2 linked regions of the Homo sapiens genome follow. The protein of the gene in region 1 purifies or fractionates together with the protein of each later gene. This does not show direct contact. Each region holds a gene or a part of one and is shown in the gene's direction. Other genes may lie near its edges.

Evidence for each region.
Region 2: the proteins of CACNA2D3 (region 1) and YME1L1 purify together in Homo sapiens (affinity purification with mass spectrometry, with the first as the bait; one large-scale study listed by BioGRID). This does not show direct contact.

Annotation. Positions count from the first base shown.
Region 1 is NC_000003.12:54,121,007-54,125,475, forward strand, and holds the start of CACNA2D3 (voltage-dependent calcium channel subunit alpha-2/delta-3 precursor), read left to right. Parts: upstream 1-1,545; 5' UTR 1,546-1,707; coding exon 1,708-1,829; intron 1,830-2,050; exon of another isoform or gene 2,051-2,436; intron 2,437-2,506; coding exon 2,507-2,588; intron 2,589-4,469. UniProt on the Homo sapiens protein: The alpha-2/delta subunit of voltage-dependent calcium channels regulates calcium current density and activation/inactivation kinetics of the calcium channel.
Region 2 is NC_000010.11:27,109,434-27,113,131, reverse strand, and holds the end of YME1L1 (ATP-dependent zinc metalloprotease YME1L1), read left to right. Parts: intron 1-1,011; coding exon 1,012-1,155; 3' UTR 1,156-3,021; downstream 3,022-3,698. UniProt on the Homo sapiens protein: ATP-dependent metalloprotease that catalyzes the degradation of folded and unfolded proteins with a suitable degron sequence in the mitochondrial intermembrane region.

The DNA of each region.
Region 1 (4,469 bases):
CCCAACATCTGCAGGGGTAACTTTTTCCAGGGACTACTGGAAAGGAGAGCCGGCCTGGCTCCTAGCCGGACACCACCTGGCGGAAGCTGGAGCCCGCCCTTACTTCCCTGCAACCTGAGGATGCTGAGGCCAAGGGCGGGTGACGGGGCAGAAAGCAAAGCCCTGGTTGCAGAAAGGCATGCAAATATGAACCCAGGTGTCTGGTGCGCCGGGAGCCCCGGCGACGTTAGGAGCGCACTCCTTGCTGGGGTCACCGGAGTTGCGCTTGGCCGGGCAAGGATGACTCAGCCTCACTCCGGTCGGTCTTTACCGCCAGCCTGCGCGAGGGCTCCACAAAGTTCCCAATCACACCCCATACCTCGCACGGGGGAGAGGGGTTCTGCAAGCTGGGTCCCGGGGTGGGGGCAGCGGCGAGAGAGGCGGGGAGAAGCCTGGTTCCCAGAACGCGCAGGGGCTTCTCCGGCTTCCTTTCTCCTCGCCCCTGAGGGCGGCGAGAAGGCGCCTCCTCCGGCGCTCACTGCCTCCTGCCCAGTGCGGTGGGCGCCGGAGTGGGGAGCAGGCAATCCCCCAGGCTCGGAGAAATCTTTTATCCCGAAATCCAGGGTGTCCCCCGGTCAGGATCGACTCGGCGCCGCGTTGGCTTCCTCGCTCAACCCTGACATCCCGGTCCCCACCAGTCACCGCAGCCGGGCGGACTCCGAAGGCAGCGGCCGCTGGGGAGCCCCGGGGCCTGGGTCGGGCGCGCAGGGGGCCGCTGCGCTGCGGCCGGATGCCGGGAGCCCCGCGCTGGTGCGCCCAAGCCGTGGTGGCAGCACCGCCCTCCGTGCTTTCCCCTGTCGGGCGCCGCGGCCGGAGGAGCAGCTGCGGGCGGTCACGCAGCGCTGCCCTAGCCAGAGCCCCGAGCTCCCACCCAGTCCCATCCCCAGCCCGATCCGCCCCGCGTGCGATCCCGCCTGCCGCCGCGAGCCTGTGCTCCTTTCTGAGATTTCTGCTTCTTCCCCAGCTCCCTCCCCGCAGGAGAATCGCGCGGCGGGGGCGGAGGGCGCGCCCCCTTTAGGTTCCGCGGCCCCCGACCCCGCCCGGCCCAGGGGCGGAGCGGGCATGCTACGCCCTCTCCTAGCAGCCGCCCGCAAAGTGCGGAGCGCCGCGCCCTGCCCTCGGCTTCCCTCCCGCGCCCCCAACCCCCACCCTGGCTAGGGTCGCCCGGCCCGGGGCCAGCCCCAGAGTCGCGCCCGCGGTGGCGGACTGCGGAGTTGTAAAGAACTCAGCGGCCGCAGTAGCCCGGGTGGGGCAGGGCGCGCTCCGCCGCGGCCAAGGACACTGGAGTTTCCGAGTCCCCGCCCGCGCGGCGCCTCCTGCCCCGCCGCCCTCCCGCCGCGGCCCGCCGGACTCCCCGGGGCCGCCGAGGCGGGGCCGGGCGGCTGCTGCTGCTAGAGGCGCGTCTCGCTGCCTCCTCCCCCGCCCGCCTCCCTCCCCACCTCTCCTCCCTCCCTCCCCACCTCTCCTCCCTCCCTCTCCTCTCCGCCCTCCCCGCCCCCCCCACCCGCTCCTTTTTCTGCTCCCCAAGTGAGCCGGGCGCGCGAGAGGCAGGCGGGGCGGCGCGGAGCGGAGCAGGCAGCCCCGCGCGCTCGCCCACCGCCCGCTCCGCGCAGCTCCCCGCGGCCGCTCTCGTCGCCGCCGCAGCGGGCGCGTCGGAGGGAGCCCAGCATGGCCGGGCCGGGCTCGCCGCGCCGCGCGTCCCGGGGGGCCTCGGCGCTTCTCGCTGCCGCGCTTCTCTACGCCGCGCTGGGGGACGTGGTGCGCTCGGAGCAGCAGATACCGCTCTCCGTGTAAGTGCCGGCTCCTGCGCCGCCCGGGGAGGGGACCTTGCCGCCTGCGACCCACTGTGCCCAAGTTTGGGCGCCTGCAGGTGCGGCTGGGCAGGACCCGCCGCGGGCGTCGGCCTCGCCGCTCGCACCTGCCTTTCGGGACCCGCGTCGGGCGGCGAGGCCGGGGTGGGATGCTCTGGCCCCTGCCCGCAGGTTGCCGAGTGAGATCTGGAGAGGCTCACCTCAAGTGACGGCACCAACTTTGGAGCCTGGTTACCGAATCCAACTTCCATGGGCCGCTGAATTTCCCCCCTCTTTGCTCTACTGCCGCCCCACTTCTTTTTTTGGGGGGGGGATGGGTGGATTTCTTCTGACTGCTATTTGCCAGGTGATGCCCAGTTTGGGGGGTCGAGTCCTCGGGCAGTGGTTCGAATGAAACTCAGTGGTCTTTTTAGAGAGCCTGGGAGACTTTGCGCATTCTTAACTCCGCGACCCCCCTCGGGCCCCCTCCCGCGCTGCGCTTTGCAGTTTTGGTGCTGGCAGTTTCTACCAAGCCGCTTTTTCTATCTTTTCTTCTTTTAAAACATGTTACATCGCACTGCTCCTTCAGCCATAGTCCCATGTGTGCGTGTGCGTGTGCGTGCGTGTTGACTGTGACACGGGTGTTACATATCTTCCTGTGCCCCTTCTCCCTGTAGGGTGAAGCTCTGGGCCTCGGCTTTTGGTGGGGAGATAAAATCCATTGCTGCTAAGTACTCCGGTTCCCAGCTTCTGCAAAAGGTAAGGTTTCTGTGGTGGCAGGAAGCGATGATTTTTCCGGCACAGAAAATGGAGGCAGATTTAGTTTTCCAAACAAACGTGAGCCCCGAGCAGCATCAGTTATCGGAGGACTCTCTGATCCCCGGGTTTCTTGGCATTGTACTATGCAGTGACTTCTTCCTACCAACCGGTTATTTTTAGATGACACTTGATTCTAACCACAAAGAAAAGCAGGATACTCACTCGCACTGTCCTGGCTGGGGCTCGGAAACTGAGTGTTTTTGCATGGCTCTCGTCTCCGTGTCGGTATTGCTGTTTCAGTGCCAGAGCAGATGCTCCTCGGGCCAAAAAATGCTAACTTCATCCAAGGGGCAGACTCAGTGCCTATTTTGTGATGCCTTTCACCTTGCGTTGGAGGCGTGGGGTTCAGTGTATCAGAGAAAGACGCTGCACTATTGTTTGTCATCCCTGCAGTTGTACAATCCCATTATTCCCCAATCATCTAGACCCAGGGCTAGGATGCATTACATCATTGCAGATAAGGAGAATGAATGTGGTTATCTTTCCACTCAGCTGCACTGCCGGGTAATAACCTATGAGAGTAGTCCACAAACTTAAGAAATGGGTCTGCATCCATGTAATTCTGGAGAGTAATGAGAATGGAGAATTGATTATTAGGTTCTTATCACAAGCTGCATCAATTTTAATTCAAATAGGCAGCATTTTAAGCATAAGCTTAAAATTACATTGTGAGATAAATGGTCCTTCGTTCTCCCCTTCAGGAAATAAAGAAAAAAAAATGGGTCTGGGAGGAGAGATTAGAGGGGTTCAAAGAATTTCAAGTTAGCAGATCAACAGGATTAATCAAAGTATTCTCTTGATGATAGAAAATAAAATTGGCCTTTAGGGAATAATTCTCTGAAAATGGGTACAAACAGCTTAAATTGTTAAGTTAACTTTTAAACATTTTAAAATATGATTTTTGGGCCAATGTACCATATGTGTTATGCATGCTGCCTGGTAACCAAGTACGTATTTTATTTATGGCATTCCCCTTCAGAGAGTAGCATTTTTGGGGACAGTATATGAAACAGTTTGCCACATGAAATCCAAATATCGTAATAAAGCGTTGGCCCACCATGGAATGACAAAAGTTATTATGGTTTAAAAATCGCCAATAGCCTTATTCATTGAAACCTTATTCATTGAAAGATTGCTTGCTCAACTCTGTTGTTTGGGAAGGTGTTCTTGAATTATAGGCAGTTGGTAAACAGTTGAGGCTACGAAATGCCCTCGTGGAAGATGAGAATTTACATACCTGTGGCCCACCTCGGCACTTAAAGGAATTGCATAGGAATTGCCTCTTTCCCTAGTATTCTTTTAATCTGGACCAATCTGTCTCCTGCTTTGGCATTTTGCCCACTTGTCAGATGTTTGATGTGATGAATTCTGGACTGTAGCATTGCCTTTATATTTTTCTTATGCTTTTAAAGAAGATAACATTTTGTATAACTTTAAAGAAGTATTTCTCATCTGCACGTTGTAGTTGTAGCAACTCTAAAAGAATCCCTTCAGAGCCTGTTAATATTTTTTGGTTGTGCTTTCATATCTTTTATCCCACATTTTCTAGGAACACATTAAATATGTTTTTTTCTTTCTCTTTGAAGTTACACACACACACACACACACACACACACACACTGCACAAAACTCCGTCAACCTTATTATTTGCTACTCTATAACAGCAAATTGGAAAAGGCTGAAATGCTTCTCTTACCTTCTCATCAGCATCCTTTCTGATATTGAATTCACTAGCTTTGCTTTGCTTTTGTCATGTTTGCAGCTTGACAATTGTGTAATTATTTCCAGCTGTTTATGGCTTTGTTATCATTTCTTGCTGCT
Region 2 (3,698 bases), on another chromosome or scaffold:
CCTCCCACCTCAGCCTCCTGAGTAGCTGGGACTATAAGCGCATGCTGCCATGCCTAGCTAATTTTGTTATTTTTTGTAGAGAGCATTTCACTATGTTACCCAGGCTGGTGTCGAACTCCTGGGCTCAAACGATCCACCTGCCTTGGCCTCCCAAAGTGCTGGGATTACAGGTGTGAGCCACCGCACCCAGCCAGGCAGGTTTTAAGGGTAAGACTGACCAGCCTGGGCAACATGGCAAAACCTCATCTCTACAAAACATAGAAAAATTAGCTGGGCATGGTGGTTCATGCCTGTAGTCCCAGCTACTTGGGCTGAGGTGGGAGGATCACCTGAGCCCAGGGAGGTTGAGGCCGTAGTGAGTTGTGATTGCCTGACTTCACTCCAGCCTAAGCAACAGTGAGACTGAAAAAAAAATAGAGAGAGAGAGAGTGACAGAGCTGAGTGCCAAAGTCTTTAGTGAGTAAGGACTATGTTTGTCAGATGGCACAATGAAGACGGTTGGATAGCTCCATAGTCAAATGGCCTGGACTTCAACAGAATAGGAAGAGTGCATTATATAAGAGGGTAGGTTAGTAATGGTCTGAAAGAGGTAATGGGAACAATGAGCTCAGCTGTTTACTGTGAAGTAACTAGGGTAAACATGAACAAATAGCACTTGAGAGGGCTTAGGGAATGCATTCTCCACAGGAGGGACCATGGGTTTGATTATTTCAAGGAAGTAGAGGGAATGCTTTAGAGTAGTTAAGGATACAGAAAGTTTGTATGATGGAAAGGTTTAGAGAGTGTTATAGAAGAGGTGGTCTCTGCCTTCTCAGGTGTTTATTCTCTTTTCCTTACTATGTTATAATGCACAAATTATCTCTACTGTAGAATCAAGATTCTACATGATTTTATAAATATAAACAGATTTCATATTTTTTAGGGTACATAAAGTTTTTCTTTCTCTTCCCATTGACTGGTTTTCGCATCCCTGCATTTGCTGCTGCTTACGTATCTCCTTTTCTGTTTCAGGACTCATATGAACGAGCAAAACATATCTTGAAAACTCATGCAAAGGAGCATAAGAATCTCGCAGAAGCTTTATTGACCTATGAGACTTTGGATGCCAAAGAGATTCAAATTGTTCTTGAGGGGAAAAAGTTGGAAGTGAGATGATAACTCTCTTGATATGGATGCTTGCTGGTTTTATTGCAAGAATACAAGTAGCATTGCAGTAGTCTACTTTTACAACGCTTTCCCCTCATTCTTGATGTGGTGTAATTGAAGGGTGTGAAATGCTTTGTCAATCATTTGTCACATTTATCCAGTTTGGGTTATTCTCATTATGACACCTATTGCAAATTAGCATCCCATGGCAAATATATTTTGAAAAAATAAAGAACTATCAGGATTGAAAACAGCTCTTTTGAGGAATGTCAATTAGTTATTAAGTTGAAAGTAATTAATGATTTTATGTTTGGTTACTCTACTAGATTTGATAAAAATTGTGCCTTTAGCCTTCTATATACATCAGTGGAAACTTAAGATGCAGTAATTATGTTCCAGATTGACCATGAATAAAATATTTTTTAATCTAAATGTAGAGAAGTTGGGATTAAAAGCAGTCTCGGAAACACAGAGCCAGGAATATAGCCTTTTGGCATGGTGCCATGGCTCACATCTGTAATCCCAGCACTTTTGGAGGCTGAGGCGGGTGGATTGCTTGAGGCCAGGAGTTCGAGACCAGCCTGGCCAACGTGGTGAAACGCTGTCTCTACTAAAATACAAAAAAATAGGGCTGGGCGCGGTTGCTCACGCCTGTAATCCCAGCACTTTTCAGAGGCCAAGGCGGGCAAATCACCTGAGGTCAAGAGTTTGAGACCAGCCTGGCCAACATGGTGAAACCCCATCTCTACTAAACATGCAAAAATTACCTGGGCATGGTGGCAGGTGCTTATAATCCCAGCTACTCTGGGGGCCAAGGCAGGAGAATTGCTTGAGCCTGGGAGATGGAGGTTGCAGTGAGCTGAGATCATGCCACTGCACTCCAGCCTGGGCAACAGAGCAAGACTCTGCCTCAAAAAAAAATTAAAATAAATTTAAATACAAAAAAAAATAGCCAGGTGTGGGGTGCATGCCTGGAATCCCAGCTACTTGAGAGGCTGAGGCACGAGAATTGCTTGAACCCAGGAGGTGGAGGTTGCAGTGAGCCAAGATCACAGGAGCCACTGCACTCCAGCCTGGGTGACAGAGTGAGACTCTGTCTCAAAAAAAAATTAAATAAATTATTATAACCTTTCAGAAATGCTGTGTGCATTTTCATGTTCTTTTTTTTAGCATTACTGTCACTCTCCCTAATGAAATGTACTTCAGAGAAGCAGTATTTTGTTAAATAAATACATAACCTCATTCTGAATAATGTCCCTCATTTTGACTATAACTGTGCTTGGTTTCAAAAGCAAAATTAAACAAAAATCTCAGTCCCCTCCGAAGTGAACTTTGTGTTACCCTGCGTCAGAAATGCCAAGTTGTGTTTACTTTTCATTCAGATTTTGTGAATATGAACATGCTGTTATAGGATCTACAGATGAATATTTAACTCAATAGAAAAATTATTTTAGAACACATTGTATTGGTATTACAACCAGATTATATTCTTGACGTTGACTTCATTAAAATTATCTACAATTTCCTAATAATTTAAGCTGTATATGGTCTTCATTGAAAAAAGATAGATATTGTTACAGGAAGCTTGTTACATTATATTCTTGACCTTTTGGTTGATAATCTTAAATCTTAATGTAATTTCAAACTGGCAGAAATGTTGCCAGCATAATACATGGATGTCTCATATACCCTGCATCCAGATTTACCAGTTGTTATCATTCTGCCCGTTTTTTATTGCCCCAAACCTGTTCTGTCTCCCTCTCTGTATGTACATACATACACGTATAAAATATTGATAAAGTCTTATCTGTCTTAAATTTTTTTACATATTTGTTGAGGTATAATTTACATATGATAAAATTCATTTTAAATGTAGAGTTGAAAGATGTTGTGTGTGTAATCATCACCACAATTAGATTTTAGAACATTTCCATCACCCAAAACATTGTCATGCAAGTGTTTGGATTAATTTTTTAAGAAACTTATGAACTATTTTCAAAGTGACTATAATTTTATGTTCTAACTAGCAATGTAGGAGGGTTATAGTTTCTCCACATCTTTTGCAGTGCTTATAGTCTGCCTTTATAATTATGGCCATTCTAGTGGACCACTCATATCCAAATTAATCTCATCCAAGTTAGATCATTTCTCTAGTGACATAAGATGCTGAGCATCTTCCGGTGCTTATTGGCCATTTGTATATCTTCTTTGGAGAAGTGTCTATTCAGATCTTTTACTTCTTTTAATTGGGTTGTCTTGTTCTTACAAGTTAAAAAAGATATATTCTGAATGCAAGTCCTTTATCAGATCTTGATTTTTTTTTTTTTTTTTTTTTAAGACGAGTCTGGCTCTGTTTCCCAGGCTGGAGTGCAGTGGCGCCATCTCGCCTCACTGCAAGCTCCGCCTCCCGGGTTCACGCCATTCTCCTGCCTCAGCCTCCCGAGTAGCTGGGACTGGCTACAGGCGCCGGCCACCACGCCCAGCTAATTTTTTGTATTTTTAGTAGAGACAGGGTTTCACTGTTAGTCAAGATGGTCTCGATTTCCTGACCT